2 separate regions of the Homo sapiens genome follow, and region 1 is linked to region 2. Evidence: fine-mapped expression QTL. A gene starts in region 2. The other region holds a variant in brackets. All regions are shown on one strand. Distances are from middle to middle. Region 1 holds the start of DAZAP1 (DAZ associated protein 1). Region 2 holds the start of CSNK1G2-AS1 (CSNK1G2 antisense RNA 1).

What was found.
Region 1: its variant is fine-mapped to the expression of CSNK1G2-AS1 in unexposed skin (GTEx, PIP above 0.99).

The regions. Positions count from the first base shown.
Region 1 is chr19:1,405,790-1,414,077 of GRCh38, reverse strand. It overlaps DAZAP1 (DAZ associated protein 1), which reads right to left and starts at 6,492. Exons shown (of 12, transcript NM_018959.4): 1 at 6,276-6,492. The coding sequence starts at 6,304. RefSeq lists silencers at 5,589-5,688, 6,069-6,278, 6,419-6,648. The variant G/A (reference allele first, on the strand shown) is at 5,247.
Region 2 is chr19:1,951,113-1,959,424 of GRCh38, reverse strand. CSNK1G2-AS1 (CSNK1G2 antisense RNA 1) reads left to right here and starts at 4,876. Exons shown (of 3, transcript NR_033400.1): 1 at 4,876-5,582; 2 at 5,919-6,039; 3 at 6,414-6,898. The region is part of intron 1 of CSNK1G2 (casein kinase 1 gamma 2); the gene reads right to left. RefSeq lists an enhancer at 3,544-4,495.

The DNA.
Region 1 (8,288 bases), 550 kb after region 2:
AGCCACTGCACTCCAGCCTGGGCGACAGAGTGAGGGTCCATCTAAACACACACACACACACACACACACACACACACACACACACACAGTTCACTGGGGGTGGGGCAAGAGGCACCACGTGCCAAAGGGTAAAATGTCAGCCAATGGTGAGTCTGGCAGGGCCAAGAGGATATGGGAATTTTTGTAATTTTCCTGTAAGTCAGAAGTTATATATACAATTATGGTATAAAAGACTTTCATTACTGAGAACAAGACAGAATTTCAGTTTCTTTTGAAACAAGTCTCAGTCCTTATGGAATCTGAGACAGCAACAGATAGCTTTCGTTTCACATAGCTGTGTCTGGAGCTCCCCACCGCAGGTGACCCGCCCGCCTCGGCCTCCCAAAGTGCTAGGATGACAGGCGTGAGGCACCGCGCGCGGCCACACTGTGTGTTTCTGTTGAGATATTTGAGAGCAGCTTCTAACGCTAAAGCTTCCTGTGTCCATGTGTCTTTTACTACCACTCAGGAGCCACCGGCGAACACCTTCTCCCTGGTCTACAGACAGAAGCCTCCGGGAAGTCCCGGAAAGCAGGGTCATCTCTTCAGTGGCAGGGACTGCCTCCAGGGCCCTGGCACAAAGTCCCTACTTCTGAATCTCAGGATGTTTTAATCAATAAAATAAGAAAGCTCCTGGCTGCCAACCTCACCAGGTCGTGAGTGAGAAGCCGGCACATCAGAAACATGCGGAGCCCTGGGCAGGCACCTCCCAGACACTGTCCATCAACTGCCCAGGCAGCAGAACCAACTCTCACACAAGTAAACGTCGGAGTCCAGGAAGCCGGGCGCGGGCAGAGGCCAAAAGGAGGAGCTGCTGGCTCTCGTGGGCTTGCTACGGGGCTGGCGGTCCGCTTGTCCTCAGCTCCAGGCTTGCTCAGCCTGCACCTTGGCTGGCGGCGTGTGGACTGAGGACGTTAACGGGGCAAGGCAACACTGGCCTACGCAGATGAAGGGGTCGGTGAGCAATGTGGCTCCTGCACCCTGCCTCTGAGGGGCCCGCTGGGTGGGAGAGTCATCACCCAGCTGACGGCATCTCCGACACTGGAAGTCGTGGCTCCTACAGACCTCACACCCCACAAACCCAAAAGGGGTGTTCTCATTAGTGGGGGAGGCGTGGGACGAGCTCCACTTCTTCCCTTGCAACCTGGAGTCCAGCGTGCAGTCTGCCCATCAAAGGTCATGATGAACATCTCCCAGGATCTGCAAGCCTGGCACCCAGGGCCTGCAGCTCGACACCTGGCAGGTGCTCAATCCACGGTGGCCGGCGCAGCCACCCTCTTCTGCCTGTTAAAGCAAAAGCCGTTTTGGATGGCAACCTCGCTTGCTGCGTGCCATTCGGGTGCCTGTGCGGTATTTATGCGTAAAGTCCATCTGCAGAGGCTTCCTCTGGCCTAGGCTGACCACAAAGAGCCCTGACCTCCTGGCAGCACCAGAGTGGGCTTCAAAAACCGGCGGCCAGCCCGGCCATTCGGGGCCAGCAGCCTCAATGGGGGCAGTTGGCAGGCGACCTTTCCCTTCCTGCTGGGCCGGGGGACCAAGCCAGGAGGAGCCTGCCTCCCCACAGACCCCACCTGGCTCTGGGCTCCGCCAGTCACACTCAGCTCCGTGCACAATCTCAAGAGGCAGAAGTCCAGGCCCAGTGGCGGCTGATGTGTGGGGAACCCTTCTCTTCTTCCAGAGCATCAGGAAGAGCCTCTAGGGACTTTCCTGCCCCTAAGACCAGGTGGGAAACCAGGACCACTTCACCCACTGCCTCAGGCCAGTGAGCCCAGCCCGCCCCTCCATAGCCTGGACTCCCTCTCCCCAGCAGGGTCAGATGCCCCCCCTCCAGCCCACGCCTGCAGGGTGTGGGGTCCACAGAACACAGGAGCGGTCCGTGAACTGGAACGCGCTGCTGTGTGCTGAAGGAGCCCCTGAATGCCCACATCCTGGGTGCTAACTGTGGTCACCCTCATCCTCTCCCTGCCAGCCCCGCCCTCCCAGGCGGACCAGTGTTCTCCTTGGCAACGCCTGGAGCCAAGCTGGAAGCTCAGCCTATAAGCATCTGTCGAATGACTGGCCTCTGCCAAAAGCCCTGTCACAGCTCTCAGGGATTCTGACATCATGACATGGTGTCACGGGGACCAGGCCTGGATGGGAAAAGGCCTCAGTTCACAGAAGACAGCACAACCTCAGATTGACGGGTCGCACCATGAACATAGCCGCCTGACCAGGAGCGCCCTCTGTGCGGGGCGGGCAGTGGAGGAGTGTGGACTCCCAGCTCCGGATCTTCCACCCCCTGGGGTGACCCCGGGCCCATCCCTCAACTCCTCTGTGCCTCAGTCTCTCTGGCAAAGCCAAGGGTTAGAGCCAAGGCTACAAGCACAGCTGGGCACGCTGCGCGCTGCTGCTAGCTCTGGGCCACTGGGGAGCTGCTGTGTGAAGGGCAAGCGCCAGGGTCCATGCTGCTGCCTTTCTAGACACCGGCCTGCTCCAGACCATTGGAGCCAAGGCGAGCCAGTCAGGAGCACATCCACCCTCAAGGCCCATTCACAGGAATCAAAGGAGCCGACACAGGACAAGCCATAAACCACAAGGAGCAGCGGCCCCCAGCGCAGGGGCAACCAGGCCAAAAGCACAGATGCTCCCAGACAGTGGCTCTCCCCCCAGCAGGACACTGGGTGATGTCTGGGAACATTTGTGGTTGTCACGACTGGGGGTACTCCTGACCCGGAGTGAATGGAGGCCAAAGGTGCTGCCCAGCACCCTGCAGTGCCCACGGTGCCCCAGAGTGATCCAGGCCAGAGTGCTGACAGAGCCCAGGAGACCTGCCTCGGAATAACTCCAAATGCACCAAGAGAGCCCCAGAAAGGCCGGCACGGCCCCATGAGGTTCCCTATCACTCCCCGCACTGCAACAGCCTCCCCCAGATCACGGCCCTCTCTGGCCTGACCAACAATCTTGCCAGGTGCCTTGTGCTCACTCTGCACAGGTACAAGTAGTCACGGCCTCTAGGGGCCCAGCCAGGAGCCCCACTCAGGATGTCTCCTTCCACAGCCACCCAATAAACCCAGAGACCTGCCATGGGCCTGGCTCTGAGCTGCATGGCCCCCGGCCACAGTCCTGGGTATCCTCGAAGCTGCCCAGAGGCGGCTTTCTCCTCTCTCCGCTGAGTCCTTCCTCCCTCTGTGACTTTCCTACAATATTTCCAGGTGTCCCTGTCTTACCATTCCCCAGTGTACCAGATAAAATCTTCCATAAACCTCTCTCTCCAGTTCCATGACCGTGTGCTGCCTTGGAAGCCAGCAGAACACAATGGCCTGGGCGCTCGAGGTGACCCCTCTGAGCCTCTGTCCTCTCCCCAGTAGGCCAGGCATGGGCCCTATCCCTGACACCTGGTCTACCACCCAGGCGCCTAGCACCCAGCGGCTACTCAACAGGATGTGGCGACCCCGGCCGCGCTGTGTCAGCTTCCCAGAATCCAAGTCAGAGGCGCTCAAGCCAGACTTTAAGATGACTTCACAAGGCCAGGGAGGGCACACTGGAGACTCGGGCCTTCCTGATCGCGCGTGCTCTGAGCGCTCCAGGCCACCTGCTGGTGCCAACCCTCTAACCCTCCTGACAGGTCAGTGCCTGTCCCCCACCCTTCACAAGAGGACCAGGACAGGCCCCGCTCCCAAAGGAGGACACTGTCCATCACATCCACCATGTAGGGTCCGCGTGCCAAACCCACCAGGATCCAGAGAGGGACTCCCCACACCCCACCACACGTATGCGCTTCCTCCTGCATGAAGCCCCCCTCAAGCTGACTGGAAGTCGGTGTGTGTAAGGCATCCGTTATCACCGGCAGGCCTCAGCTGACTTTCATCCCCCATCAAGCTTTACATGGACTTCTAAGCCAGCACAGGGACCCTCAAAACTTGGGACGACTTCTCAGACTCAAAAGCAGAGCTTCCCCCAAGGATGGCTCCCTAACCCACCTTCCAGGTGTGGATTCCCAGGGCAGCAGCTGGACGGCCACAAGTGTCCCAGAACAGGGGGCTCCCAAGCTCCAAGTCTCCTGAGGCGTTGACCCCGCACCCATGCATGCTCCAGGCCCAGCCCTCCAAGCGGGGTCCGGCGGGATCTCCTGCCTCCTCCATGGCAGTGAGCAGTGAGGGCTCTGCATCAGGAAGAGGGAGCTCCTCAGGCTGCCGAGCCCCCCCAGTGGGTAAGGGACACCGCAGACCCATGGCGTCCTGAGAGCCGCCATCTGCCGCAGAGAGGGCCTGCTTCCATCCAAGCTCAGCACCCTCCTGCATGGCACCCACCGCACCTGCAGGGGACTTGCCAGGAGGGCGCTTCGCAGGGTCACAAGCATTTCACGCACACAACAACTCCACACAGCAAGATCAGAGCAGACCGTGGACTCCGCATAGAATGGAAGCCGGTCTCCCATGCGACGGGCGGCTGTGGCAACACTTCTTGCCCAAGGAGTCTGACTTAGAAAGCAGTGGACACTCCTGGCAGCCGGGGAGGAGAGCAGGGTCCATGCACTCCAGTTCTCCTCCACGCAGCCCGTGGCGTCCGGGTGGCCTGCGAGCCTATTTGTGCTGTGGGTGGGACCCCTCCAGACCCAGGCTGGGACCCCAGCTGCCCCACTTCCCAAGGGTGTCCATGCAGGGAGGGGACAGGAGCCCTCACCTCTCTCCAGCCTCCTCACAGCCACGGCTTGGGTGGAGCGGGCCCACGTTCACCCGCGGCTTGAATGGACCTAATCCAGGTACCCCATCTGGGAGCCCTTTCCCTGCCTCACCCCAAAGTCGATGGCTCCATCCCCCATGGCCGGTGGACTCCCTGCTCAGGCCCATCCCTGCAATGTCCCTCACACAGGCACACGGACCCTGCCAAGTCAAAGTGCCTGGAGAGGACTCACAGCACGGGCTAGGCAGGGGCTAAGTGCTTTCATCCTGGTTCTCCAACGGAAGGTGCTCTTTTGTTTTGTCTGGGGAGGGGGAGAGCCCACAAAAGGCATTTCCCATCCACAAGTGTGACCTGTAGCTGGTGCGAGAGGCGCCTGCCAAGGCAACCCTCTAGCAGCAACCGCTCCCGCACTAGCCAAGCCCAGCGCTGAGAACACAGGGCGCTGCTCAAAGCTAAGGGCACCGAGAAATTTACACCAGACCACTAGGAAACCCAACCCAGACTGTTTTGCCGGAAGAATGCAACTCTAAAACGACGTCGCTGCG[G/A]CAGGAGCCGCTCCTACCAAAGAATGGCGCCGAGCCCTGGGGCACAGCGAAATGAGGTTTCCCGGCCCCGCGGGGTCCGGAGCAGGTCAGGCTCCTATAGGAGGGGACGCCTCGGCGCAGCAAAGATCCGCGGGCCCGTCGCCGCCTCGGAAGCGCTGACTCTCCCTTCCGCAGCTCAAGCCCACCCCCGGCGGGGAGGCGCCGAGGCAACGTAAACACAGCAGGCCCCGGCTGACCCGAGCCCCCTGGGCCCTGGGTTTGCGAACCCCTCCCGACCTTACCACTTTGGGGGGGTGGGATGGGAGCGGGGAGCCCGGAGCCCCGAGTGGGATAGGTTGGGCGGTGGCAGAACCGGAACCCTCGCCTCGGCTCGCCACGTGCGCCGCCCGCCAAGTTTGGGCGCGCGCTGGGGGCGCCCCGGACCACCCCCCACGCCACAGTTTGGGGTCCCCCTGGCCAGGAAGCCGGGAGGCGGCGGCGACGGCGCCCTGGACTCCCCGCAGACTCCCTCAGGTTCTCATTCGGGGTCCCCCAGGCCAGGAAGCCCTACAGGCGGCAACGGGGACGCTCCAGACCCCCCCAAGTTCCCGTTCGGGGCCGCCACAACCAGGAAGCGGCGGCGGGGGCCCCTGAACCCCTCTGGCTCCCATTCGGGGTCCCTCAGGACGCGCAGTCGGGAAGCGGCGGCACGGGCGCCCCAGGACACCCCCCCAGGTTGCCGTTCGGGGTTCCCCCGACCAGGAAGTCTGGAGGCGGCGGCGGGGCCCCCCGGACCCCTCAGGCTCTCCTTCAGGATCCCCCAGGACGGGAAGCCGGGAAGCGGCGGCGGGGGCGCCAGGACCCCCCCAGACCCCGGGCACCCGTCCAGGGCCCCCGGCGCGAAGCCGCGGCGAGTCCGGGTCCCGAGTCCGCCCCCGGCCGGCGTGACCTTGACGGGGCGGCCCCGGGGGGCGGCGTCTGAGGCCGGGCGGCGGGGAGCGGCGGGCCGGGCTCGGGGCGGAGACGCAGGCCCGCGCCGCTCGTCCTCACCCGATCTCGTCGGCGCCCGAGTTGTTCATGGCGGCGGCGGCGGCGACGCTCGGCGCTCCCGGGCCTCCTCGCTCGCTCCCGCCTCCGGAAGGTCACCCGCTCCGTCGCCCTCCCCACAGCCGCGGCCCGGATCTGCGCAACGGCGGCGGCGGCGGCGGCGGCGGCGGCGGCGGCGGCGGCGGCTGCCTCCTCCCCTCGGCGCCAACGGTCACCGCGCGTCCCCGCGCCGCCGCGCCGCCGCCCCTGCGCACGCCCGGGCGCGCTCCCGCACGGGGTCTCCGGGGGCGGGTCCAGGGGTACTCCGTCTGTGCGTGCGTCCCTGAGGCGGATTTCGCGCCGCCGCAGTCGGGGCCGTCGCGCGTTTTCCTTTCTCCTCGGAGGCTCCTGGCGTTGCCGCGGGGCACGCTGGGAAATGGAGTCCCTGCGCTGGCCCCGCCCCTGCAAGGGGAGGATGCGCGCGGGCCGAGCCACGTGCGTGCGTGCGCGCGCGTGCGGGCTTGCGTGCGCGTGCGCGCTTGCGAGACCGGCGCTCCGGGCTAGGCACTGTGGGCGCAGGCGCGGCTGCCGCTTCCTCTTTAACTCTTCACTCGGAAGCGGTGGAGCCGCGTGGGGCGCTGCGGGGAGTGGGAGTGTACCCGCCCGCACCCCAGGCGGGCGGACGGAGCGGGAACGGCACGTGAGCGTCCCGCGCGAGGCTCCTTCCCCTGTCCGCATTTCACAGAAGAGGATCCCGAGGGTCCGAGAGGCTGAGTCACTTGGCCAAGGTCACCCAGTTCGGGGCTGAACTGGAATCAAATCAAAACAATTAACTAAATTCAATGACTATGAAAAGATATTATTGACCCCCCCCCCAAGTGCTATTACTATTAATAGCCAAATACTGTTTTAGTTGCATCTGTTAATTGCATACATCAGTGGTTCTTCTTCTGGGTGACTTTGCCCCCTAGGGGATAACTTGGCAATGTCTGAAAACACGGTTTTGGTTGTCACAACTTGAGTGCGGGGTGCTGCTGGCATCGAGTGGGTCCAGACCAGACATGCCGCTCAGCACCCTGCAGTGCACACGACGACCCCCCAAAAAGAATGATACCCGTCCTCCAATGTCAGCAGAAGGAGGTGGAAAAACCGGTCTAGGCTGACGGTAGTAAACAGGTGACCCGCAGGGTTTTGTAAAACCGGGTACGTGCTGCCTACTGCTTTTCTCCTTAATCTCACAGCACATTGACAGCCTGATCGTTTGGTTTATTCATCATCACAGAATTAAATAAATACAAGGAACAAGGCCGGGTGAGGTGGCGCACGCCTATAATCCCAACACTTTGGGAGGCCGAGGATCAATTTAGGTCAGGAGATCGAGACCAGCCTAGCCAACATATATAGTGAAACCCCGTCTCTACTAAAAATACAAAAGAAAATTAGCCGGGCGTGGTGGTGGGCGCCTGTAATCCCAGCTACTCGGGAAGCTAAGGCCGGAGAAATGCTTGAAGGCAGGAAGTAGAGGTTGCAGTGAGCCGAGATCGCGCCACTGCACACCAACCTGGGCAACAGAGCAAGACTCCCTCTTAGAAAAAAAAGGGCCGAGCATGGTGGCTCACTCCTGGAATCCCAGCAGTTTGGGAGGCCAAGGTGGGCGGATCACGAGGTCAGGAGATCGAGACCATCCTGGCTAACATGGTGAAACCCCGTCTCTACTAAAAGTACAAAAAATTAGCTCGGCATGGTGGCAGGCGCCTGTAGTCCCAGCTACTCAGGAGGCTGAGGCAGTAGAATTGCTTGAACCCAGGAGGCAGAGCTTGCAGTGAGCCGAGATCGTGCCACTACACTCCAGCCTGGGCGACACGGCAAGACTCTGTCTCAAAAAAAAAAAATACAAGGAACAAGATCACAGACAAATAGTACAAAACACTTTTTTTTCTTTTATTTTGAGACAGGCTCTCACTCTGTTGCCCAAGCTGGAGTGCAATGATGCAGTCATAGCTCACTGCAGCCTTGAACTCCTGGACTCCAGCTATC
Region 2 (8,312 bases):
GGCAGGTGTCCGGGCAGGTAAGACACCCCGATGCCACGTCAGGAAAAAGACATCACACCCACCCTCTCTGTGAGCCCCAGAGCTCCAGCCCTTTCCCAGACAAGGGAGTGGGGACACTCACAGGCCACTGAGAGGGAGCTGCCAAAACCCTCGTTGAGGACAAGAGACTGGAGGCCACCAACCAAACCTGAAAAGCAAACGTCACCGACTTCACGAGGAAAACAAATCCATCCCTTCTCGCCATGAGGATGAAAATATCCTCTATTAGATGGCACAGACAGAGACACAGCCTCATGATGAGCTAAAGGCACTGAGCTGCATGAGTTACACAGCTAGCGGGTACAGCCCGAGTGTCACACCTCAGTTATTAATACAAAAACCAACTCGCACCCTGGGAGCAGATGGAGATGCAGACTGGGAAGCCACATGGGGAATTTGGGGAAGGGACGCTCAGGACCCAGAGCCAAAGCTCATACCCACACTCAATACCGGCTGCTGTGGCCCTGGACGGGGGTGGGGGGGACGGGGGGAGGGGGGACAGTGCCTGGACGGGGGATGGGGGACGGGGGGAGAGTGCCTGGACGGGGTAACGGAGGACAGTGCCTGGGAGAGCTGGGCTGCTGCGGCCCTGGATGGGGGGACAGGGGGACGGGGGACAGTGCCTGGGAGAGCTGAGCTGCTGCGGCCCTGGATGGGGGGACGAGGGGAGGGGGGACAGTGCCTGAGAGAGCTGAGCTGCTGCAGCCCTGGATGGGGGGACGAGGGGACGGGGGACAGTGCCTAGGAGAGCTGAGCTGCTGCGGCCCTGGACGGGGGGACGGGGGGACAGGGGGACGGGGGACAGTACCTGGGAGAGCTGAGCTGCTGCAGCCCTGGACGGGGGGACGGAGGGACAGGGGACAGTGCCTGGGAGAGCTGAGCTGCTGCGGCCCTGGACGGGGGGATGGGGAGATGGGGGGGACAGGGGAGATGGGGGGACAGGGGACAGTGCCTGGGAGAGCTGAGGCCCTCTAGACACCTAGCAGGAGCCGGGCAGCTCTCCTGCCCTGGTGCACCAACCCCACGGCCCCCACTGCTGAGCCCTGCAAGACGGCCCTGCCGGGCTCCTGTTCCCCTAACATACACACTCGCTGCCCAAAAAGGACGAAGCGAGGCCCAGCGGCCTCTGGGAACCACCGAGAAGGAAGCCGTGCTCTGGACAGACATCAGGGGCACAGGCTTTGGTGGGGGCAGTGGGAGTCCCAATCGCCCCTCAATTCCAGGCAGAGCAGGCAGGTGCCCCATGAGGCTGCGCTGTGCTTCCAACGCCTCCAGACCTGCTCGGGAGGGGCCCCTTACTCAGCCACCGATGTCCCTCAGGTGTCCCATTAGGATGTGGGCAGTGCCGTCGTCAGGACGCGTCCCAACACCCGGCTTCCGGACAAGACAAGCGCACACCTCCAACCCCTCCCTGCACACGGGGGAAGCACGTGGTGACATGAGGCTGGCTCTGCCGTGTGCCCCGCAGCTCCAGGGGGCCCTAAGCAGTGGCCGTGCCACACACACAGTGCCCGCCGAGCGCCCACCCCACATAAACGGCGCCCGCCTAGCTCCCACCCCACAAACACGGCGCCCGCCGAGCACATACCCCCCACACACGGCACCCACCGAGCACACACCCCAGTGTTTCCAGGGGAGATCTGGCAGCTGCTCAAATGCCGCCAGACGCCCTCAGAGGCCCCTCTGTGCCCACGTCTGCAGTCACCCGGGGTCCTGCGCACCCTCCAGTCTCTGCCTGTGTGGTGAGCTGTGAAAGTGGCCTAGCCTGTGGAGCGCGCCCCGGGCGAGGGGACATGGGGGACCTGCAGGGGCAAAGGCATCTGCTCGGCTCCCTCAGTGAGGACAAACATGAAGTGGAGAGAGAGGTGCCTGCGCTCACTGTCCCTCCTAACAGCAAACCCAAGGTCTCCCACAGGCCCGGCCACCCAAGCCGCTCGGGGCAGCCCCCTTCTCTCCCAGGCTGCTCTCTGCTCAGCACTTGGTTTGCACGAGCGCCTGGTGCATCCCGGGACATCTCTCCCCCGGCTCCACTTTCGTCTGTGGTGCCCACGTGACCTCCCGGGCACACACTGCTTCTCATCCTTGCGGGCCTCCAGGCTGGGCAAGGCACCCTCCTGGGCACAGGGCCACTGGCCTGCTCTCCGTGTAGGCTATCCCTCCTGACACGGTGGCCCTCGGGCCTGTGGGGCTGCCTGGAGGGAGGTGGGGCCTGCGTCCAGGTTGCTTTTCTTTCTAGCCGCCCCTGCCTTGCCCTCTCCACAGCCGGGGACCCCAGAGGCCCAATCCCGCCCACCAATCTCCGGGTGGCACCGTTTAAGCCACGCAGCATCAGGGCACGACCGTCGAAGGGGGGCGCCACCACCAGCCTTCCCTCTGCAGAATCCCCTCCTCCTCCCTCCTTCTCTCTTCCAGGTGAGCCATTGGCTTGGTCAGTTCCTTCTGCTGAGAAACCCTGAGTGATGTGTGATTAACTGAATTAACCCATCAACCGCCGCCTGGCCAGGTTCATCGAGGCTGAGCCCTAAATTCCGGAACGAGCCTCCTGGGGCTCTCTGGGGTGTCCTCCTGGCCCGGAGACAGAAGCTTCTGGACGGCTGTCTCACAGCCCCCACGGATGTGGGTATGACCCACGGCCCCGTGTCCCGATGCTGGAGTCTGTAACCGCCACCTCCTTAAACACTCTCCCATCCCCAACACTCAGTCTACCCAGATGGGACTGGACACACCCCACCCAGCCCCTCTGTGGAGGGTCAACACCAACCACTGAAAGGGCCAATGCCGCAGGGTAAGCGCCTGTGCCACAGCCACAGCTGCCGGGTCTGAGTACAGAGTGGCCTTGCCGGCTAGGATGCGTGGTCTTTTGTTTTTTGAGACAGGATCTAGCTCCATCACCCAGGCTGGAGTGCAGTGGCAGGATCTCGGCTCATTACAACCTCCGCCTCCCGAGTTCAAGCAATTTTCCCGCCTCATCCTCCCAGGTAGCTGGGACCACAGGCATGAGGCACCATGCCGTCTGATCTTGGCTCAGCTACATGCGTTCTGGCTTTTGCAGAACAAAAAGCACCAAATCCCCATCCCAGCTGCACCTGCACAGATGACAAGCCCCAACCCCCAGAACCTGTGACGTGAGCGCTGCCCTGCTGGGTCTACCCACTGCTGGGTCTAGGGCCCCACTGCTCCTGGCATCCCCCTGGAAGCCTCCTTGTGCGACCCCCGGCCCCTCGTCTGGGTGGTGACCATCACCTCTCAGGTCCTGGCTCCCGCAGGGCCTCTCGGCACCCCTGCCCCATGACCTGGAGGCAGGAGGATGAGAAAGGGGCAGGCCCTGCACTCAGGGACCCAACGCTGTCGGGAGCTGGGGTGAAGGCCAGCCCGGGCTGTGTGCCGACCCTGCTCCGCCCGGCCAACGAGCAGGCTGCCCCGCTGGCGTCTGTTCTGATACAGTGGTCTTGGCTGTTGTGGCCCAGGCAGGTTGGGGTTGCTACTTTCTCTCTGGCCCCCTGGATGAGCACTGGCCTCCCTGTGCCCGGCCTCAGGGCCGGCCGGGAGCAAACCCCACTGTGCCCTGCAGAGCTGAGCCACACAGATGCACACCCGGCTTTGCAGATGGAGCCCGGAGCCGAGCAGCAGCCTCCTCCGGTGACAGCAGTGGCACGGGGGTCCGCTGAGCACTCCCTGCACCCTCAGGGCTGGATCCCGCCTCCAAGCATCTCACGACAGCCCCTCTGAGGGGGTCGTGGGCGGACAGCAGAGGGAGGGCCCAGCCACACCCACCCTAAGCCTGACATGGACGGAGAAGCCCCTGACCTGGGCGCTGCCCCCGACTCGCGGAGCCTCGCCCAGGCACACGCCCACCCCGCGGAGCCTCACCCTGGCACACGCCCACCCCGCGGAGCCTCGCCTCAGCCTGAGCCTCAGTGGGGGGCGCTGACCCACAGCCGGTGAAGGGCAGCCCAGTGGAAAACGGGAGCACTGCTTGCACACCTGCCGCCCACGGTGGCCGCTAGCCCACATCCCCCACCTCAGGAGTGGCCCCGAGAGTCACCGCCTGCGCCTGAGGCCCTCGCAGCAGCAGCAGCAGCAGCAGGAGGGCAGTCAGAGGACAGGCAGGGCCGCCACCCTGGGCTGTGTTCCGTGGGCACAGGGCGGGTGCCCAGCTCCCCCTGCCCCCACAAACAAGAGCCGCCACTCCAAGACTCAGCAGCTTCCGAGGGCGCAGATCACTCCCTGGAGGCGGTCACCACTCGGTCAGGGCCCAGCACCCGTCCATCACCAAGGAGGAAGAGCCCGGCCTCTTCTGGGGCTCTCCGAACCCCAGGGGGTGCCCAAGGGAAGCCAGACAAGGCCGGGGCCTGGAAGGAAGCGAGGACGTAAAGGCTGGGCACCCACAGTGCCCACGCAGGCCTGGGGGTTGGGGGCCTGCCCTGTTGCCTGAGGGCCACAGCGAAAAGCAACAACCCCAGGGAGGGACGAAGGGACGCTGATCCTCACCCAGCCTCCACCCAACCCACGCAGCCACGATTCCGTCCCAGGGGGCGAGTGCCGGCTCCGGGTCACACGCCAAGGATGGCTCCCGGGCGCCAACGAGGGGATTGCAGCCATCCCACAAGGGGCTGCTCTCTCCCCGTCAGCTCCCATCCCCTTCCCCAGCCCTAGCCTCAGGCTGCTACCTGCCCTGTTCTTTTCGGGGTCCTCCATCTGGTCTGGGCCCAGGGCCAGTTCCCTGGGGAGGGCCCCGGGAGCCCCCTTCTCTGACTGTCTCCACTGAGTGATGTCACAGTCCCTGGGCTGACATCACCACACAGCCCTCAGCCCAGAGCCCAGGGCAAAGCTGAAGGGAGGCCAGGGACCTCACTGGGCTGGGCAGGTGCAGGCCACCGCCGTCCCAGTGCCCTCAGAGGCACCTAGACTCATGTGGACCCGGCCGCAGACCGTTCTGGGCAGCTCTGTCCAGGCCGGCCCTGCCCTCTGACCTGGGGCCGCAGGGGCTGGCCACTGTGGGCTCGGTTCCCTGCCACCCCAATTCATCTGCACCCCAAGGAAAGAAAATGAGGGGTTGCAGCGCCCCAGGACCCAAGAGCCCCCGAACACCAGGGCAGCACATACTTCCAGTGCCAGGGCCACAGCAGAGCGGGGCCAGGCCCAGCCCAGTGACGCAGGGCAGACGGAAGGGCGCCCTCCACAATGGAGGGGCGCAGGAGCTGCCGCGGCCAGGACAAACCAACCTCAGGCTGACCTAGGCCGGTAATGGGTTTAACGCATCAGGTGCAAAAGAGAAACACCCCACAAATCAGGGAGAGGAGGGAAGCCGCCCACCCCATGGGAGGAAGCTGAGGAGTGAACGCCAGGGATGGGCAGGGCCGGTCCTCGGAGCACTGCAGACACCAGACCAAGGGCGACTGTCATCACCACGAGAAGGCCCCGTCCATGGCAGAAGCCAACCTCACCGCGCCGACTGCACCGGAGACGCCCACGAGGACAGCCGGCCTCTGAGAACGCAGCTGAGCCGTCACAGGTCGCCATCAGCAAAGGCAAGAGTCCAGGTAAAGAACACAGGAGGGCCACAGGTGATCGCGGTACAGCGGCCAGGACCGGACCCTGATGCGGGGGGAGGGGGCAAGGCTGCACAATGGCAGCTGGGACCAGACCCTGTTGGGGGGATGTGGGGGACGGCGAGGCTGTGCAGGGACCCCGTCCCACAGGTCAGCCTCGCCCTGGTGATGGCACAGACCACAGGTGAGGGCCACGGGCAGAGCTGACCAGGGAAAAGCTGGCACTCACCCAGCACCGGACACATAAGGCAAACACCACCGGCAGCCTTGGCGGAGGGCACTGTCCCTGCAACTAGTCCACATAGGGGCAATTTTCCCAAAATTCAGATTATGCAAACGGAGGCAAGGCTGCCATGGACTCCAGAGCCTCAGACGCCATCAACAAAAGCAAAGTGGACACATCTGCATCAAATCCATCACAAAGACGGCCTTCCAGACTCCGGGGGAAGTGAGAACACCCCCACCCAGGCCCCCATGGCGCACAGGCCCCCACAGCAACCCTGCGCCACCTCAGCAGCCTCAGCTCTGCTTCCTGCTCCGTGGCCCGGGGGCAGAGCTGACCTGGTCTTGCCAGGGGGGCAGGGGTCCCCGGTCCCAAGTGGTGCCACAGACAGCGGGGGGAACGTGCAGGCAGAGTCAGGCACCCCACCAGGAAAGAAAGCTCCCACGGCAGGTCCCGGGGGCGAGTGGGACCCGGGGTGGCTCCCATCGGAATCCTGCTACATCTGAGAGGACACGGGTCCTTCCAGAAGCGTAACCATGAACGGCCGTGGAAAACCTGGGTGGGCTGCGTTTCTACATTTCCTTTGTTTTTTTTTTCAGACGGAGTCTCGCTCTGCCACCCAGACTGGAGTGCCTTTTCCCCTCATCGTGTGGGAGCCGCCGGGCGACATCCCGCCCCGGTTTCCCTCCACTCGAAGGCAGTCACCTCGGTTGCCAGCTCCTGCCTCTGTGATGATCCCCACGAGGGCTGCAGAGTGAAGGGCACAGCAGGGTTCGGCCTAACTCCCCGGGGAGCCCTAGGCGAGAGGGCTTGGTCCTGGGGAGCTGCCCAGGTCTTCTATATCCCCTGGCCTCCATCCAGTCCCGCACGACTCAGCTCCTGGCCCTGTGCACCGGGCGACGCCTGCTAGGCGCATGACCCTCAGAGTCAGGCCTGTACTCACCTCAGCATCTATCAAGGGCCTTCAAGGATCGGGTTTTTTTAATCATCGTCAAATATATCGTTACTAAAAAGATACGTACACTTTGGGAGGCCGAGGTGGGAAGATCACTTGAGGTCAGGAGTTTGAGACCATCCTGGACAACATGGTGTAACCCCGGTCTCTTCTAAAAATACAAAAATTATCCGGGCATGGTGGCGGACGCCTGTAATCCCAGCTACTCGGGAGGCTGAGGCAGGAGAATCACTTGAACCCGGGAAGTGGAGGCTGCAGTAAGCCAAGATGGCACCACTGCACTCCAGCCTGAGCGACAGAGCAAGACTCTGTCTCAAGAAAAAAAAAAAAAGTTGAGCACGTGGAAGCATCCCGCCCTCCGCCACTCGGGCATCATCAGTGCTCACAGGCCGCAGATGACACACGCTATCGGCGCACTAGCTTCTGCCCCCTGGGCCCTCGTCCAGCCCTGCACCCACTGCCCACTGAGGGGCCAAGGTGTGCTTGCTGTCCTGCAGTGACCATCACGACCCCTTTCACACAGAAGGGTTGGGCTATCCCCGAAAAAGACATGCCAAGTCCTAGCCCCCAGTAAACAGGAACACGGCCTTATGTGGAAATGAGGATGGCCCCAATCTCACCACTTCTCAGCTTAAGGTCCTGTTTCATGATGTTGAGTCAGAAAACAGCAGAGAATGGCCGGGCCCGGTGGCTCTCGCCTGTAATCCCAGCACTTTGGAAGGCCGAGGCGGGTGGATCACGAGGTCAGGAGATCGAGACCATCTTCGCTAACACGGTGAAACCCCGTCTCTACTAAAAATACAAAAAATTAGCCAGCTGTGGTGGCGGGCGCCTGTGGTCCCAGCTGCTCGGGAGGCTGAGGCAAGAGAATGGTGTGAACCCGGGAGGCGGAGCGTGCAGTGAACGGAGATCACACCACTGCACTCCAGCCTGGGCGACACAGTGAGACTCTGTCTCCAAAAAAAAACAGCAGAGAAGAGGAAGGTGGGGAGGGGTGGACTCTCACCGCTTCCTCCCGCCCAGCCTGCACATCCTGAGGGCACCCAAGCATCCCCCATCCTGGCCCATCGGGAGGCTGCACCCCCCAACTGGGACCCCTGTCCGTCATGCACACCACAGCTGGTGCTGCCTCCTCAGGGAGCCCCAGAGGACACAGGCAGCTGGGCCAGCCTCAGGATCTGGCAGGGTCTGAATGGGAAGAAATCAAACGGTCCCAGCAGGCCCCCATCTTTGATTTTTTTTATTTTTTTTTTGAGACGGAGTCTCACTCTGTCGCCCAGGCTGGAGTGCAGTGGTGCGATCTCGGCTCACTGCAAGCTCCGCCTCCCGGGTTCACGCCATTCTCCTGCCTCAGCCTCCCGAGTAGCTGGGACTACAGGCGCCCGCCACCACGCCCGGCTAATTTTTTGTATTTTTTTTAGTAGAGACAGGGTATTTTAGTAGAGCCAGGATGGTCTCAATCTCCTGACCTCGTGATCTGCCCGTCTCGGCCTCCCAAAGTGCTGGGATTACAGGCGTGAGCCACCGTGCCTGGCCATCTTTG